4 separate regions of the Homo sapiens genome follow, and all the other regions are linked to region 2. The links come from fine-mapping of genetic effects on gene expression. A gene starts in region 2. Each other region holds a variant in brackets. All regions are shown on one strand. Distances are from middle to middle. Region 1 has its middle 8.2 kb from the start of LYPD3. Region 2 holds the start of PHLDB3 (pleckstrin homology like domain family B member 3). Region 3 has its middle 4.9 kb from the start of LYPD3. Region 4 overlaps PHLDB3 (pleckstrin homology like domain family B member 3).

Region 1 (4,161 bases), 47 kb after region 2:
ACATATATTGCAATACATGTATAGAGGGAAACATCAGTGATGGTAAATGTAGTGTTGGGAGTATTAATGATTTTTCTTTTTTTTTTTTTTTGAAATGGAGTTTTGCTCTTGTTACCCAGGCTGGAGTGCAATGGCACAATCTCAGCTCGCCACAACCTCCCCTCCCAGGTTCAAGCGATTCTCCTGCCTCAGCCTCCCGAGTAGCTGGGATTACAGGCATGTGCCACCATGCTTGGCTAATTTTATATTTTTAGTAGAGATGGGGTTTCTCCATGTTGGTCAGGCTGGTCTCAAACTCCTGACCTCAGGTGATCCACCCACCTTGGCCTCCCAAAGTGCTGGGATTACAGGCGTGAGTCACCATGCCCGGCAGAGATTTTTAAATTTTAATTTAACTTTTATTTGTATTGTAGAGATTGGCGTCTCACTATGTTACCCAGGCTGGTCTCGAACTCCTGGGCTCAGATGATCCTCCTGCCTCTGTCTCTCAAGTGCTGGGATTACAGATGTGAGGCACCGTGCCCAGCTGTGTTAGTGATTAAAGACAGTCTTACTAGATGCCAAGTCTATGCTATCAGTTTACAGCCATCATCTCATTGACTTTTCCACATATTTTCAGATGGGATGATTGGGGAAACTGAGGCTCAGAATGATGAAGTAATTACCCACAGCAAATAATACATTGATTATGTGCCAGGTACTGTATTAAGTGCTGTACTTGGATTAATATATTTAATCTACAAAACCATCCTATGAAGTAAGTGTTAATCACCTGCATTTTACAAGATGGGGAAATCAGGGCTAGAGAGGTTAAGAAACTTGCCCCACGTCACTCAGCTATTAAGCAGTGGAGCTCGGATTTGAACACGGGCAGGTCAGCTTTACAGAGTGTACCAACACTGCCATAATGTTTCCCTCAGCTTGACTAAACTTTAGACAGGCTTCCTCCTGCCTCTAGGCCCTCAGAATCCAGAGGGTCTAACCACAGAGGCCCCTTACCTCCCTTTTCTTAGAGCATTTACTTGAGAAAACTTGTCATTGTAAATTATTTCTTTGTCCATTTGAGATGGATATAAACCTCTTTAAAAGTCTTGGCCGGGCGCGGTGGCTCACGCCCGTAATCCCAGTACTTTGGGAGGCCAAGGCGGGTGGATCACGAGGTCAGGAGTTCAAGACCAGCCTGACCAACATGTTGAAACCCCGTCTCTACTAAAAATACAGAAATTAGCCAGGTGTGGTGGCAAGTGCCTGTAATCCCAGCTACTCAGGAGGCTGAGGCATGAGAATCGCTTCAACCTGGGAGGCGGAGGTTGCAGCGAGCCAAGATCACGCCATTGCACTTCAGCCTGGGGGCGACAAAATGACACTCTGTCACAAAAAAAAAAAGAAAAAAAAAGTATCTTGCCAGTTGATAGCCCAGGAAATGGAGTCTCACTATGTTGCCCAGGCTGATCTTGAACTGGGGTCAAGCTATCTTCCTGCCTTGGCTTCTCAAAATGCTGGGATTACAGGGATGAGTGACCAGGACCCAGGAAACTATCTTTTTGAAATTGTAAACATAAAAGGAAATAGCACTCCTATCTCCCCCCAGGAAGGTGAGAGCCTAACTTTGGTACATGACTCAGCTCTCAGTTGTAAAATACCTCCTGTCATGAAGACAGAAGAAAGTTGCCTTCTCTTCTGGGTAAAGCCGATTAAAAATGCAAATGACCTACAATCGCCATTCACCCCAGCTCAAAATCCCTACCACTCAGCTGGGCGTGGTGGCTCATGCTTGTAATCCCAGCATTTTGGGAGGCTGAGGCAGGCGGATCCCTTGAGTCCAGGAATTTAAGACCATCCTGGGCAACCTCGTCTCTAAGAAAAATACATTAAAAATTAGCCAGGTGTGGTGGCACGTGCCTGTAGTCCCAGCTACTTGGGGATGCTGAGGTGGGAGGATCGCTTGAACCCTGGAGGCCGAGGTTGCAGTGAACCATGATGGTGCCACTGCACTCCAGCCTGGGTGACAAAGCAAGACACTGTCTCAAAAAAAAGAAATCTGGCTTCCAATG[CT/T]TTTTTTTGTTGTTGTTTGAGATGGAGTCTCACTCTGTTGCCCAGGCTGGAGTGCAGTGGCGTGATCTTGGCTCACTGCAACTTCTGCCTCCCAGGTTCAAGCAATTCTCCTGCCTCAGCCTCTCGAGTAGCTGGGACTACAGGTGCACACCACCACGCCCGGCTAATTTTTGTATTTTTAGTAGAGATGGGAATTCGCTATGTTGGCCAGGCTGGCAATATATTTACTTAGCGGATCCATCCCCCTGAAAGTAACCAATCTTTTGCAGCTGTCACTGTCCAGCCTTCCCATCTTCTTGGGAGGATGACCTCCTTATCCATCTTGGCCTCTGAAACCCATTATGGGCCCTGAGACTCCCGCTCCCCCACCGCAACCCCTCCAACCTCCTTCCAGACAGTTACTTGCTTGTGTTCAGGAGGAGAAGAGAAAAGAAGAGCTTAATGTGTTTCAAATATAATCAATTGTTTTGCTCATCTAGTTTCTACTTTTAAGCTCCTAGCTCTGCTTTCTGTTAAAAATACCAGATTCTGGCCAGGTGTGGTGGCTCATACCCATAATCGCAACATTTTGTGAGGCCGAGGCGGGTGGATCTCTTGAAGTCAGGAGTTTGAGACCAGTCTGGCCAATATGGCGAAACCCCATCTCTACTAAAAATGCAACAAAATCGGCTGGGCATGGTGGCTCACGCCTGTAATCACAGCACTTTGGGAAGTCGAGGCGGGCGGATCACCTTAGGTGAGGAGTTCGAGACCAGTCTGGCCAATATGGCGAAACCCCATCTCTACTAAAAATGCAACAAAATCGGCTGGGCATGGTGGCTCACGCCTGTAATCCCAGCACTTTGGGAGGTCGAGGCGGGCGGATCACCTTAGGTCAGGAGTTCAAGACCAGTCTGGCCAATATGGTAAAACCCTGTCTCTACTAAAAATACAAAAATTAGCTGGACGTGGTGGCGGACTCCTGTAGTCCCAGCTACTCAGGAGGCTGAGGCAGAAGAATCGTTTGAACCTGGGAGGCGGAGCTTGCAGTGAGCCAAGATTGTGCCATTGCACTCCAACTTGGGTGACAGAGTGAGACTCTGTCTCAAAAAAAAAAAAAAAAAATCAGCCAGGCTTGGTGGTGCGCGCCTACAATCCCAGCTACTTGGGAGGCTGAGGCAGGAGAATCACTTGAACCCGGAAGGCGGAGGCTGCAGTGAGCTGTGATTGTACCACTGCACTCCAGCCTGGGCGACAGAGTGAGACTCTGTCTCTCTCTCTTTCTCTCTCTCTCACACACAGACACACACACACACACACACACACACACACACACACACAGCCAGATTCTGTATAACTTATTAGACTGGACACGGCTTTAAAGTGTTTTTAATGACAGCTCACCAAAACAGAAGTGAGAGAAAGAAGAAAAAGGACGAGGAGAAAGAAAGGGAAGAGAGAGTGAGAGGGTTTAGCCGTACGAAAAGCCACAGAGGGGGAAAGTTACAAAATCTCTTTCCTGTATTTTTTCCAAGGTTTGATGTCTGAGGTCCATGTGTGAGAAATTGATTTCAGCCTCTTTTTCAGGGCTTGCTGGGGACAAGGCAGGTGTGACAAGGGGCAGGGTGGATCTGCCTGAACTGGCCTTGCTGGTTTCTCTTCTTCCTGGGTTTGTGTGTTTTTAACGAAGGGCTTGTTTAATTTTAATTACATAAGCAAGACATGACTATCTTCTTGCTGTCAAACATTAAAAAAATACAGAGACAGCAAGAGAGAGAGAGAGAGAGAGTGCTCAAAAAGCCCTTTTGAGAAATGGTTGGTCAATCAGTTGCAGGGGAGGGAAATTGGGGTGCAATTTGGAAACGTCTTTCTAAATGACAAATGCAGATCGCTTCTGACTTGGCAGGTTTTTCTCTCAGGAATTTATCTCACATGTAGACATGGACGCCTGAGGCTGATGTCAGGTCTGCTCCAGGATGTTAATTGCAGTAGTGTTTGGAATAACAAAACATTAGGAATAACCTAAATGTTTATCAGGAGGGAACTGGTTATGCTTATGATGGTGTGCTCACACAGTTTGATGCTTTATGGGCATTATAAAAATAAAATGAGCTAGGTGCAGTGGTT
Region 2 (4,161 bases):
GGCTCACTGCAACCTCTGCCTCCCGGGTTCAAGCGATTCTCCTGCATCAGCTTCCCAAGTAGCTGGGACTACAGGCGCGTGCCACCATGCCCGGCTAATTTTTTCATATTTTTAGTAGAGACAGGGTTTGACCATGTTAGCCAATATGATCTTGATCTCCTGACCTCGTGATCCACCAGCCTCGGCCTCCCAAAGTGCTGGGATTACAGGTGTGAGCCACCGCGCCCAGCCCGGGAGCCCACAAGATTTCTAACTCACAAGATCAAAAACAAACACAGCTATCTGGGGCAGGTCTTCTCATCACCTTGGATTAGAACACCGGCTTGCTTTTGAGCCACTTCCCACTTAGCCCTGGGGTAAGTTACTTCACTTCTCTAGGCCTCAGTTTTCTTATCTCTAAAATGGAAGGAATAATAATGGGGTGTTGTGATGCTCTGATGAGTCAATGTGTGTGAGTGCCTGGCACATGGCCTATCAGTGTTCACCATTAAAGTTACTATCATTTAGAATGATCTTTTGGGTACTTCCTGGCTTGTAGTGACAGTATACGCAATGGTTAAGAACATGGACTTTTGAGAGAATGAAGCCTGCATTTTACCACTTACAACATGTGTAGATGTTGGCTACATTTTTTTTTTTTTTTCTGAGATGGGGTCTTACTCTGTCGCCCAGGCTGGAGTGCAGTGGCACATTCAAGACTCACTGCAGCCTCGACCTCCTGGGCTCGAGATATCCTCCTGCCTCAGCCTCTGGAGTAGCTGAGATGACAGGTGTGTGCCACCACGCCTGGCATAATTTTTGTATTTTTAGTAGAGATGGGGTTTCTCCATGTTGCCCAGGCTGGCCTTGAACTCCTGATCTCAAGCAATCCACCTGCCTCGGCTTCCCAAAGTGCTGGGATTACAGGCCTGAGCCTCTGTGCCCAGCCAACCTTGGGTGCATTTGTCCTCCTCAGCTTGTATCCCCAAGTGTAAAATGGAGATAGTAGGCCAGGAGCGGTGGCTCACGCCTGTAATCTCAACACTTTGGGAGGCTGAGGCAGGCAGGTTGTTTGAGCCCAGGAGTTCAAGATCAGCCTGGGCAACCTGGAGAAACCCAGTCTCTACTAAAAAAAAAGAAATGGAGGTAGTAATCACTTTCTCGCTGGACAGCTTTGAGGGTGAAATTAAATGACTGGGTATAAAGTGTTTCACACAGCTCTTGACTTCTAATCATCCCTTTTCATATACCAGTTATTTTCCTGTTTTCATTTTCCTGTTTTCGCCCAGAGAGGAAAGGGTCTGGCTGAGACCTTTAACCTCTGCCCTCCACCCCATAGCAAAGTTGTGGGGGGGTGGCGGTACACTTCCCTCAGTCTCTGGGCAGGTGTCTGACTCAGTTCAGGGCACCCCTTCCCCTTGTCCAGCTCCCCAAACCGGTCAGGGCCCTTCTGAAGGGCTCATTAGAGGGGAGACGTCCCCATCTCCATTCCTGCCTTCCTTTCTGAACTCCCAAGGTCTGGACATTAGAGAGGCTCCCATACAGAGGTGGCCAAGACTCCTCCAGGGGGGCAGGAATGAGGGGCTCGAGGGAGACTGGGAGGTCGCGATGCTGAGTTCCACGAGGGTGGGGCCGGGCCGGGGCCGGTGGGGCCGGGATGGCCGGATGCCGAGGCCACGGGTGGGGCAAGCCCGTGGCTCCCTCCTCCCTCGGGAGCTGTTGGACCTGTTGTCCCCCCTCCACTTCCGGGCTGCTGGGGAGGGGGACCGGGCGGCCTCTCTCCTCCCTCTTCCCCTGCCACCTGTCTCATAGGCAGAAGCGGCCGTGCCCAGCGCGCAGAGCGGAGCGCGCCGAAGCCTGAGCTCGTGAGGGGGCCGAGGCTGTGGGGAGGTGGCAGTTGGACTTCGGAATCTCAAGGACTCCGACTCCTGGCTTGTTCAGAGAAGGAGAGCCCCGACTCCTGGATCCCTGGGTGAGGCGGCGTGGGCACGGTTGCCCTGCACAGTGGGGTCGGGACTAAGACTACGGGGCTCCGGGAAGGATGGGGCGGGAGCCGAACTGCTGAGTCTCGGAGGGAGAAGATGGGTCGCTCTAAGCGAATCCAAGAGATTGTAGGGGGCTGCTGGGAGGGTACAAGGCCTGACACCTAGAGATGAGGGAGGGGAGGCGGGGTCGAAGAGGTCAGTAGGGGGCGTGCTACGACCCGGACTCAAATTCCGGTCCCGTCTCCGGTGGCGTGTCGCCTTGGAGCCATCAAGCCCCGCCTCTGGAAACTTCAGGACACGCCTCCGTAACGCTCAGTTCCATCCTTTGAACTCTTAGGCCCCGCCTCCTTGGGGGGGGGTCTCCGCGCCCCGGAGCAGACGCGAGCGGCGCTCAGCCGTCCTAGGCCCCGCCCCCGGAGCTTCTGGTCCCGCCCACCCCGCAGGAGTCCCAGCGGCCATGGGGACGCGAAGCAGCCCCGAGGAGGGGACCCCGCCGCCGCTGGTCCCGGAATGCGACGTGGAGGTCCAGCCCCAGGGCCATCCCGAGGAGTCCCGGGAACAGGAGGCATCCGAAGTCCTGGCGGAACCTTCGAGCCGCGGGGGAGCTGAGCAGCAGGCAGAGGAAGAAGAAGTGGGAGAAGGCAGCAGCACTGAGAGCAGCCGCGACGCGGTGAGGGGCCCGAGGGCGACAGCGCGGGGGGCTTGGACCGACGGGGACCCAAACAGGTGGCCAGACAGGTAGACAGGTAGAGGGAAACCAGAAAGACAGAGACCCGGAGACAGGGAGAGAGACCGAGTGATAGCAGAGACTACTGAGAGAGAGATACACCAGGACACGGAGCCAGAGAGGCAGAGGCACAGACAGACAGAAACCAGATACAGAGACAGAAACCAGATAGAGCCACGGGGAGGCCCCAAGAACGGAGATAGACCCAAACGGGCGACAGAGACAGAGAGACTAGTATAGAGGAACCAGATAGGTGGCTCACGCCTGTAATCCCAGCACTTGGGGAGGCCGAGGGGAGGATTGCTTAAGCCCAGGAGTTCGAGACAAGTCTGGGCAACATAGCAAATCCCTGTCTCTAGAGAAAAAAAAAATACAAAAATTGTCCAAGCGCAGTGCCGCGTGCCTGTAATCCCAGCTACTCGGGAGGCTGAGGCAGGAGGATCGCTTGAGCCCAGGAGTTGTAGGCTGCGGTGAACTATGACTGCGCCACTGCACCCCAGCCTGGGACAAAGCAGAACCTATCTCTAAAAATGAGAGAGAGAGAGAGAGAGAGAGAGAGAGAGAGAGACCAGATAGACAGACAGGAGAGACTACAGAACAGAGAGAACCAAACGAGTAAGAGATGCAGAGAGATCAAGAAGCCAGACAGAGACCCAGAGACATGGAGACTGAGAGACAAAGACCCCAAAAAGACAGAGACACAGTGAGACTAGAGTCAGAGAGAGGGGAATCGAGACAGAGGGAAACCCAGAAATAAATGGCAGAGATGCTCAGAGAAACAAATAGACAAAAACCTCGAGAGAGGGACATACTCCGAGGAAGAAAGATCTAGTGATTCTAGTGGACAGATCTAGTGGACAGATACCGAATCTGAGAGACTGGGGTCAGGTGGAGAGACAGAGACAGATCCAGGCACTACAAGAAAGTGACGCCAAGAGAATAGGACCTGATAGAGAAAAAGAAACACCTTTCATAAGTCGGCTTTACACCTGCTCACCCTCCATACGGTACTGCAAGCCTCTGTGGTCCGTGTGGTTGGGTGGTCACGGGACTTGCACCCTCCCCCACTCCGACCTTAAATACAGGGGTCTGAGGCCGGGCGCGGTGGCTTATGCCTGTAATCGTAGCACTTTGGGAGGCCGAGGTGGGAGAATCCCTTGAGCCTAGGAGTTTGAGACCAGCCTGGGCAACATAGCATCGCCCCCTCTCTGCCAAAAAAAAAAAAAAAAAAAAAGAGCTTGGCGTGGCGGTGCGCGCCTGTAGTCACAGCTACCTAGGAGGATGAGGCAGAAGAATCGCTTGAGCGAGGGAGGTCGATGCTGCAGTGAGCCGTAATCGCGCCACTGCACTCCAGCCAGTGAGACCCTATCTCAGGACAAAAAAAAAAAAAAGATAAGAAAGAAAAAGAAAAGAGCCTGCGACAGATTATGGGAGTGGTGGTTGTGTTAGGTAAGTGGACTGATGGACTGA
Region 3 (4,161 bases), 34 kb after region 2:
GTCCCTAGCCACCTTTGAAGATCTGTGCTGGTCCCACAAGTATCTCTGTGCCCAAGGGAACATAACATTAAACACCATGAGGGGTCAAGAGAAAGGCTGAGGGCCAGGTGCAGTGCCTCATGCCCGTAATCCTAGCATTTTGGGAGGCTGAGACAGGAAGATCACTTGAGCCCAGGAGTTTGAGACCAGCCTGGGCAACATAACAAGACCCTTTTTCTACAAAAAAAAATTTAAAAATTAGCTGGACATGGTGGCACACACCTGTAGTGGCAGCTACTTGGGAGGCTGAGGTGGGAGGATTGCTTGAGTCCGGGAGATAGAGAGGCTGCAGTGAGCTGTGAGCTGCATGCCAGCCTGGGTGGCAGAGTGAGACTGTCTCAAAAAAAAAAAAAAAAAAAAGATTGAGGCAGAAGAAAGGAAAAAAAAGTGTTTCTATTTTAGTACCTTTAACAGCACTCTTTCCTGTTTTTTTTTTTTTTTTTTTTTTTTTTTGGTGAGAATGGAGTTTTGCTCTTGTTGCCCAGGCTGGAGTGCAATGGTGCGATCTCAGCTCACTGCACCCTCCGCCTCCTGGGTTCAAGCGATTCTCCTGTCTCAGCCTCTGGAGTAGCTAGGATTACAGGCACACGCCACCACACCTGGCTAATTTTTTGTATTTTTAGTAGAAATGGGGTTTCACCATGTTGGTCAGTCTGGTCTCGAACTCCTAATTTCTGGTGATCCTCCCACCTCGGCCTCCCAAAGTGCTGGGATTACAGGCGTGAGCCACCGTGCCCGGCCTCTTTTCCTGCGTTTTGAACCAGGTCTCTAAATTTCATTTTGCACTGGGGCCCGAAAATTATACAGTCAGCCCCATCCCTGACTCCACTCCTTCCCTAACTTGTCACAAACAGTGTGTCCCAGAGGGAGTGGGCCTGAGTCAGGCTGGGAACCTCACTGGCGTCAGAGCCTGGTCTGCCACAGGGAGACGAGAAATCCAGAGTGAATATGGTCCTGGGCTTGTCTGAGGCCTGGGAGTGATCTGTATTGCTGGCAGCTGCCTCCGCACTGACCCCTGAGCCAGATTCTAGATTCTCTGCCATAAAATCTGCAAAGGACCCAGAAGAGCCAGCCACCTACCACGCAGCAGGCTTAAGTGGTGCCCTGCATTCAAACCTCCTTCTGTTCTCTGGTCATGGGCCAGGCGGGGGTCAGCGCCTAGAATCTGGGCAGGCCTGAGCAAGAGGTACCTCTCCACCCTGGGTCCCACTCCCTCCCGAGATGCTAGTTCTTCTGGTCTGGCCAGTTGGGGTTCCTCCCTGAAACTCTCCCACACAGCTGGGACCTGCAGGGCCTCCTGCTTCAGAGCAGCACACAATAATAATGCTAGTCTCACCCTGCCTGTCACTCACTGGGTCCCCGCTCTATCCTTCAGGAGGTAGGGGTTTTCAGGGGAAGTTCAGAGAGGGAGATGGAGTTGCTTGAGGTTACACAGCAAGAGGGTGGCAGAGATAGGATTAAAATGTGTCTGTCCACTTCCAGACTTGATATTTTGCCCACTGCCTTACCCTACCAATGAAAGATAGTCCTTCTTTTATTATAAAAAAGACACTTTGGGCCCGGCATGGTGGCTCACGCCTGTAATCCCAGCACTTTGAGAGGCCGAGGCAGGCAGATCACCTGAGGTTGGGAGTTTGAGACCAGCCTGACCAACATGGCGAAACTCCATCTCTACTAAAAATACAAAAAATTTGCTGAGTGTGGTGGTGGATGCCTGTAATCCCAGCTACTCGGGAGGCTGAGGTAGAAGAATCGCTTGAACCTGGGAGACAGAGGTTGCAGTGAGCTGAGATTGCGCCATTTGCACTCCAGCCTGGGAAAC[G/AAG]AGTGAAACTCCGTCTCAAAAAAAAAAAAAAAAAAAAAGACACCTTGGAGGCTCAGAGAGATGAAAGCATTTATGCAGCATCACACAGCAAAGCAAGAATCAGGGCTGAGATTCCAAGGCTGGGAGGCGGGCGGAGGGAGGGGGAAGGGGACAGTGCTGAATGAATGACTTCACAAGAAGTCATTCACTTTCTCTCTCTCAGCTTCAGCATGATGCCAAGTGACCTCACCCAGGTGACTGAAGTGCTCGTCATTGTTGGGAACGGGGGTGCCTCACAGGGTCTGGAGAACAGATAATATCTTTATAAACACGACCGCTGCTTGTCTCGTCATCAGACAGTGAGCCAGCCCCCTGCAGCCGGGTCTGACATCTGACTCTGCCGCTTCCCTTGCTGTGTGAACTTGAACAGATACCTTCCTCTCTCTGGGTCTCAGAGTCTTCCTCTGTGAAGGAGATCTTCCTCTCTACCCCCTCGTTAGGAATTCAAGGCAAGATTGCTTGTATAAGAGCTGACCACCCTGTGTGGCACACGGTTGGAGCTCAAGAAGTGAGGGCTGTTAATAATAATAGTTATACTAACAATCTATTTATTATTATTATTATTGAGACAGGGTCTCACTCTGTGACTCAGGCTGGAGTACAGTGACGTGATCACAACTTACTGCAGCCTTGACCTCCCAGGCTCAATGCGATCCTTCCACCTCGGCCTCCCGAGTAGTTGGATCTACAGGTGTGCACCACCACACCTGGCTACTTTTTGTATTTTTTGTAGAGATAGGGTTTCACTATGTTGCCCAGGCTGGTCTCAAACTCCTGGGCTCAAGTGATCTGCCCGCCTCAGCCCCCACAAAATGCTGGGATTACAGGCACCAGCCACTGTGCTTGGCCCTTAACCTATTATTAGTAATAAAAACTAATGCTTTCATAACTCCTAGAATTTGACCCTATTTTAATCATTTCACATATATTTAACATTGATGCCCTAGCAGTATAGTATTTCACATATATATAACATTGATGCCCTAGCAGTATAGCACCTAGTATGATGTGGGTACTACTAAGACCCTCATTTTATGGATGAGGATGAGGGCACTGAGGCACACAGGGGCCAAGTAATTGTCAAAGTTTCACAGCTGATATCCAATGGACCCATGTACCTAATTATAGGTACTGTTAGTTAAGCCAGACTGCCTGAGTTCAAATACTGTCTCCTAGCATTGTGACTTCCTAGCTTTGTGACCCTGAGCAAGTTGTTAAGCCCCCCATGCCTGCCTCGATTTCCCCATTTGTAAATTGACCATCATAGAAATCTCTCATAGGATTGTGTGTAAAGGGTGTGGAAAGTTGCCTGGCACAGAGGAAGCACTGAATGCATGTGCTTTTGTCATAGTCTTTGTTTAGACAGGAAGCCTCTGAACATCAAAGAATTGGAGTCACTTGATCAAGTCACACAGCAGATTAGGGGCAGAGTTGGTATTCAAATGCATGCCTGTCTGGCTGTAAAACTAAGGGTCATTGCAAAATATAATCTCAGGCCTAAAGCCAGGCTCTGACTTTGGCAAATGGCATGGGGGCCTTTGGAGACAGCCCTGGATTCAAATCCCAGTTCTGCCACTTCCAAGCCTCTCCCAGTCTCAGTTTTCCCATCTGTGAAATGAGACTTAGTTCTCTCTTTGCAGAGCTGTCGTGACATTCAGAGAGGATTCACAGAAAGTGCTAAGCACAGAGTAAGTGGTTAATAAATGCTAATAACCATACTTACAGGTGAGGATTAAATGAGATAATGCATGCCCCCTGTTCAAAACAGTTTCTGGGAAACAAACACTTGATACTCAGTCACTGTTGTTATTATGACTTTTGTTACCATTGTTATTAATGTCATGATGTGGTTTATGGCAAGAACTGTCTGGAATTAGCTTGGAAACCTCCCACTTCCTCTTCCCTCACATTGGATCCATCAGTAATCCCTACCTGTTCTTCCTCCTAAAATATTTTAGATCTTTCCACTCTTCACCTTTCCTTTGGGACACCCTTGGCTAAGTACATCTGCTCTGGCCTGTGTCAATGTTCTCCACCAGGGACACACCTGTGGTTGAACAAGTTGGGTTTATTGCTTCTTGCAATGAGGGAGAAAACACACCATGAGGTAACTGTGAGGTGTCTAAGTAAAAGGGTGTTAGAAAGGATTGATTTTTTTTTTTTTTGAGTCAAAGTCTTGCTCTGTCACCCAGGTTGGAGGGCAGTGGCGCAAATCTCGGCTCACTGCAACCTCTGCCTCCTAGGTTCAGCGATTCTCCTGC
Region 4 (4,161 bases), 27 kb after region 2:
ACACCCGGCCCGATCTTTATTTCTTTTGATAGGCCTCTGATGTTTCAGGGTGAGCTCTAGGGTCAGAAATACCTGGGTTCGTGTCCCAGTTCTGCTGCCTAGAAGCTCTGTGTGACCTCGGGTGCATTATGTCATCTCTCTGTACCTCATTTTGCTCATTTGTAAAATGGGGCTCACAGTTGCCATGAAGTGCCAAGGAGCTGATGTCCATAAAGTCCTGGGCAGAGCATCACAGTCAATCCACGTAGCCGTTGCATTTGTCAGATGGTCCTAGTTAATATTACCCTCTAAAGGCTGTAGCGGGCCTTACATGCAAGCTGCTATGACTTGCTCCCCTCGAGGGGCTCCAGGCTGTAGAATCCCCCGCCCCTTACATCAGCTGCCCCGTCTCTTTGCTCCCCAGGCCCCACCCACCCCACCCCACCCTCCAGGCCCGCGAATCTTGGATCTCCGGCAGCATCTGGAGGGATGGGGCCACAACCCGGAAAACTGCCCACATGTGCAGGTGTCTGGGTGCTGCTGCCGTGGACCCCTGGTGAAGATGGGCGGCCGCATCAAGACCTGGAGGAAGCGATGGTTCTGCTTTGACCGCCAAGCCCGCCGCTTGGCCTACTATGCGGGTAAGCCCAGCCTGGCCACCATGGGCCCCAGGACGCTGGAATTCCACTCCGGAGGCCTTTCCTCTACAGGCACCAGAAGTCCTGGCCCCCACTTTCCATGTTCCCCAGGATCCAGAAGTTTGGTTCCCTAGCTCCTAACTTCCCTACAACCCAGGAGTCCAGGCTCCCAGCTCTCTCTCTCCTCCAGACCCTGGAATCCAGATCCCCAGCCCCTCTTTAAGCCACCCAGAATTCAAACCCCCAGTCCTCCTCAGGGACATAGATAACAGTTTAGTACAATTCAAGCTTCCCAGGGCCCATGTTCCTAAGACACCCATGAGTCTGAACCTGCACTGTCAGCTGCCCCCAGCCCCCCAATGGCCAGGAGTCTGGGGCCCTTGTCCTTCTTCTCTAGGAGAATCAATTATTCCAAACCTCTCCTTGGACACTTTTTTTTGTTTTTGTTTTTGTTTTTGTTTTTTGGAGACAGAGTCTTGCTCTGTCGCCCAGGCTGGAGTGCAGTGGTGCGATCTCAGCCCACTGCAACCTCCACCTCCCCGGCTCAAGCGATTCTCCTGCCTCAGCCTCCTGAATAGGCGGGACTACAGGCTCATGCCACCACACCTGGCTAATTTTTTGTATTTTTAGTAGAGACAGGGTTTCACTGTGTTAGCCAGGATGGTCTCGATCTCCTGACCTTGTGATCTGCCTGCCTCAGCCTCCTAAAGTGCTGGGATTACAGGCTTGAGCCACTGCACCCAGCCTCCTTGGACGCTTGTATTGTCTCAAATCCTTCTTCCCTAACCTGTATGACCATTTGACTCTACTTGGTGAGTCCTGGCTCTGTCAGCTCTGGCTGTGTGACTTGTGCTGGGTGCCTTAACTTCTCTGAGTCTTGGTTTCCACATCTGTCAGATGGAGATAAATGTACTTACCCCTCCAGGAGAGTTTGAGAGGGTTAGAGATTATACCTAGAAAGCACTTGAGCACTCCCTGAGTTCCTTCCCTTCTCAGAGGCCGAGCATTCAGGGCCTAGGATTCCAGCTCCACAGACCCCACTCCCCAATCATGTCCAGTTTCTG[T/C]GCCCAGTCTCCCATCCAGCGTTAACATTCACTCACCTCCCAACCTTTAGAGACCTTCAGACTCTTGTCACCATGTTTCTTACCCAAATCCAGTCTCAGGACTTAGGGCCAATGACCCTCACCTCGACACACACAGACACACCTTTCTCACTGGCTCTCTTTTTCTCTTACCTCCCCTACCAGACAAGGAAGAGACCAAGCTCAAAGGTGTCATCTACTTCCAGGCCATTGAGGAAGTCTATTATGACCACTTACGCTGTGCCTTCAAGGTGAAGCCCCTCAATGTCACCCTGACCTCCCAGTTGGAGACTCAGTTGGAGTCAGGCCTTATCTCATCCCTGGCTCATCCTGGGGAAAGCCACCCGCAGCTTCTCCTGTCAGGGTACTCATAGGAGTACGTGTTTGTCGCAGAGAAAACAAACAGGTCACCTGACTGCAGGGACTAAAAATTAAGAGCCCAGACTCTGGCCTTCAGCCACTGTTAATTTTCTTCTTTTTTTTTTTTTTTAAGACAGAGTCTCATTCTGTCGCCCAGGCCTGAGTACAGTGGCGCCATCTCGGCTCACTGCAACCTCCGCCTCCCTGGTTCAAGCAATTCTCCTGCCTCAGCCTCCTGAGTAGCTGGGATTACAGGCACCGTGCCCGGCTAATTTTTGTATTTTTAGTAGAGACGGGGTTTCACTGTGTTGGCCAGGTTGGTCTCAAACTCCTGACCTCATGATCTGCCCACCTCAGCCTCTCAAAGTTCTGGGATTACAGGCGTGAACCACCGCACCACACGTGGCTCTTTTTTTTTTTTTAGATGGAGTCTGGCTCTGTTGCCCAGGCTGGAGTGCGGTGGCGCCATCTTGGCTCACTGCAACCTCTGCCTCCCGGGTTCAAGCGATTCTCCTGCCTCAGCCTCCCAAGTAGTTGGGATTACAGGCGTGCCACCACAGCTGGCTAACTTTTGTATTTTTAGTTGAGATGGGGTGTCACTGTGTTGGCCAGGCTGGTCTCGAACTCCTGACCTCATGATCTGCCCACCTTGGCCCCCCAAAGTGCTCGGATTACAGGCGTGAGCCACCGCACCTGGCCTGTCACTGTTAATTTTCTTGGAGCAAAAGTTTTAGAGCCAAAATATGGCAGACTCTGATGTCCAACTGGGAATAAATGAATGGAGAGGTCACAGCAAGGGTCGGGCAGCCTGGGAGCATCTAAAGGAGATGATCTGCCAGGCGTCGTGGCTCATGCCTATAATCCCAACATTTTGGGAGACCAAGATGGGAGGACTGCAGGAGGCCAGGAGTTTGAGACCAGCATGGTCAACATAGCAAGATCCCATCTCTGTTTTTTTTTTTTTATTTTTTAAATGAAAAATAAATAAAGGAGATGGTTGTTAGTTGGCTCCTGCCAACAGTTGCCAAGTGGGAGTGGGTCCCATGGTGTTGTCTTATATTTATTTTTTCCCAGAGAACTCAGGAATTGGAACTTGTATAAAGCACAGTGCCAAAAATTTAAATGTTGGCAACTGATACAATATTTAGAAAGCTCTGTGGAGAATAACCAAACTGTGGCTTTTTAGCAATTAGGTTGGAATCTCAGCTATGTGACATCAGGAAAGTGACTTCCTTTCTTTAGCCTTTAGCCTTAGTTTTCTTTGTTTCTTTTTCTTTTTTTTTTTCTTGCTCCATAGACCAGGCTGGAGTGCAGTGGTACAATCATAGCTCACTGCAGCCTCTATCTCTCGGGCTCAAGCAATCCTCCTGCCTCAGCCTCCTGAGTAGCTAGGACTATATGTGTGTGCCACCACACCCAGCTAATTTGTTTTGTTTTGTTTTTCTGGTATTTTTTTGTAGAGATGGGGTCTCCCTCTGTTGCCCAGGCTGGTCTTGAACTCCTGAGTTCAAGCAATCAATCCGCTTCAACCTCCCAAAGTGCTGGGATTGCAGGCGTGAGCCACCCAGCCCGGCCGGCCTGAGTTTTCTCACGTGTAGAATGGGTACGCATCAACCCATTCCATCAGGGTTATTGAGAGGGCTAAAAACAGATTATGGACATAAGGGATTTACTCAATTTGGGATTGGCAAGTGGGTACTCAAATAACGGATTCTAGACACTAACTTTTCCCAGGTACAAGGGGACCTAGATTTTGGGGAGGTGGAATTTGAATGCCTGTATTTCTAATATAGGAGAAGTTAGGCTGAGAGAAGGCGTCATAAGTCCTACTTTTAAATTTCTCGGCCTGGCACAGTGGCTCACGCCTGTAAGCCCAGCACTCTGGGAGGCCGAAGCAGGCGGATCACGAGGTCAAGAGATCGAGACCATCCTGACAAACACTGTGAAACCCTGGTCTGTACTAAAAATACAAAAATTAGCTGGGCGTGGTGGCACACGCCTGTAGTCCCAGCTACTCGGGAGGCTGAGGCAGGAGAATCGCTTGAACTCGAGAGGTGGAGGTTGCAGTGAGCCAAGATTGCGCCACTGCACTCCAGCCTGGC

The links. PIP is the estimated chance that this variant, and not a neighbour inherited with it, causes the effect.
Region 1: its variant is the best candidate, but not a certain one, in a credible set for the expression of PHLDB3 in anterior cingulate cortex (GTEx, PIP 0.85).
Region 3: its variant is the best candidate, but not a certain one, in a credible set for the expression of PHLDB3 in activated naive CD4 T cells (Schmiedel 2018, PIP 0.61).
Region 4: its variant is the best candidate, but not a certain one, in a credible set for the expression of PHLDB3 in testis (GTEx, PIP 0.67).

The regions. Positions count from the first base shown.
Region 1 is chr19:43,455,362-43,459,522 of GRCh38, reverse strand. No RefSeq gene overlaps it. Among named protein-coding and RNA genes, the nearest start is that of LYPD3, 8.2 kb to the left of the region's middle. The variant CT/T (reference allele first, on the strand shown) is at 2,055.
Region 2 is chr19:43,502,379-43,506,539 of GRCh38, reverse strand. PHLDB3 (pleckstrin homology like domain family B member 3) reads left to right here and starts at 1,794. Exons shown (of 16, transcript NM_198850.4): 1 at 1,794-1,951; 2 at 2,408-2,634. The coding sequence starts at 2,422. RefSeq lists silencers at 1,598-1,657, 2,258-2,507 and an enhancer at 2,136-2,658.
Region 3 is chr19:43,468,396-43,472,556 of GRCh38, reverse strand. No RefSeq gene overlaps it. Among named protein-coding and RNA genes, the nearest start is that of LYPD3, 4.9 kb to the right of the region's middle. The variant G/AAG (reference allele first, on the strand shown) is at 1,862.
Region 4 is chr19:43,475,836-43,479,996 of GRCh38, reverse strand. It overlaps PHLDB3 (pleckstrin homology like domain family B member 3), which reads left to right. Exons shown (of 16, transcript NM_198850.4): 14 at 404-620; 15 at 1,865-1,950. Among named protein-coding and RNA genes, the nearest start is that of LYPD3, 12 kb to the right of the region's middle. The variant T/C (reference allele first, on the strand shown) is at 1,682.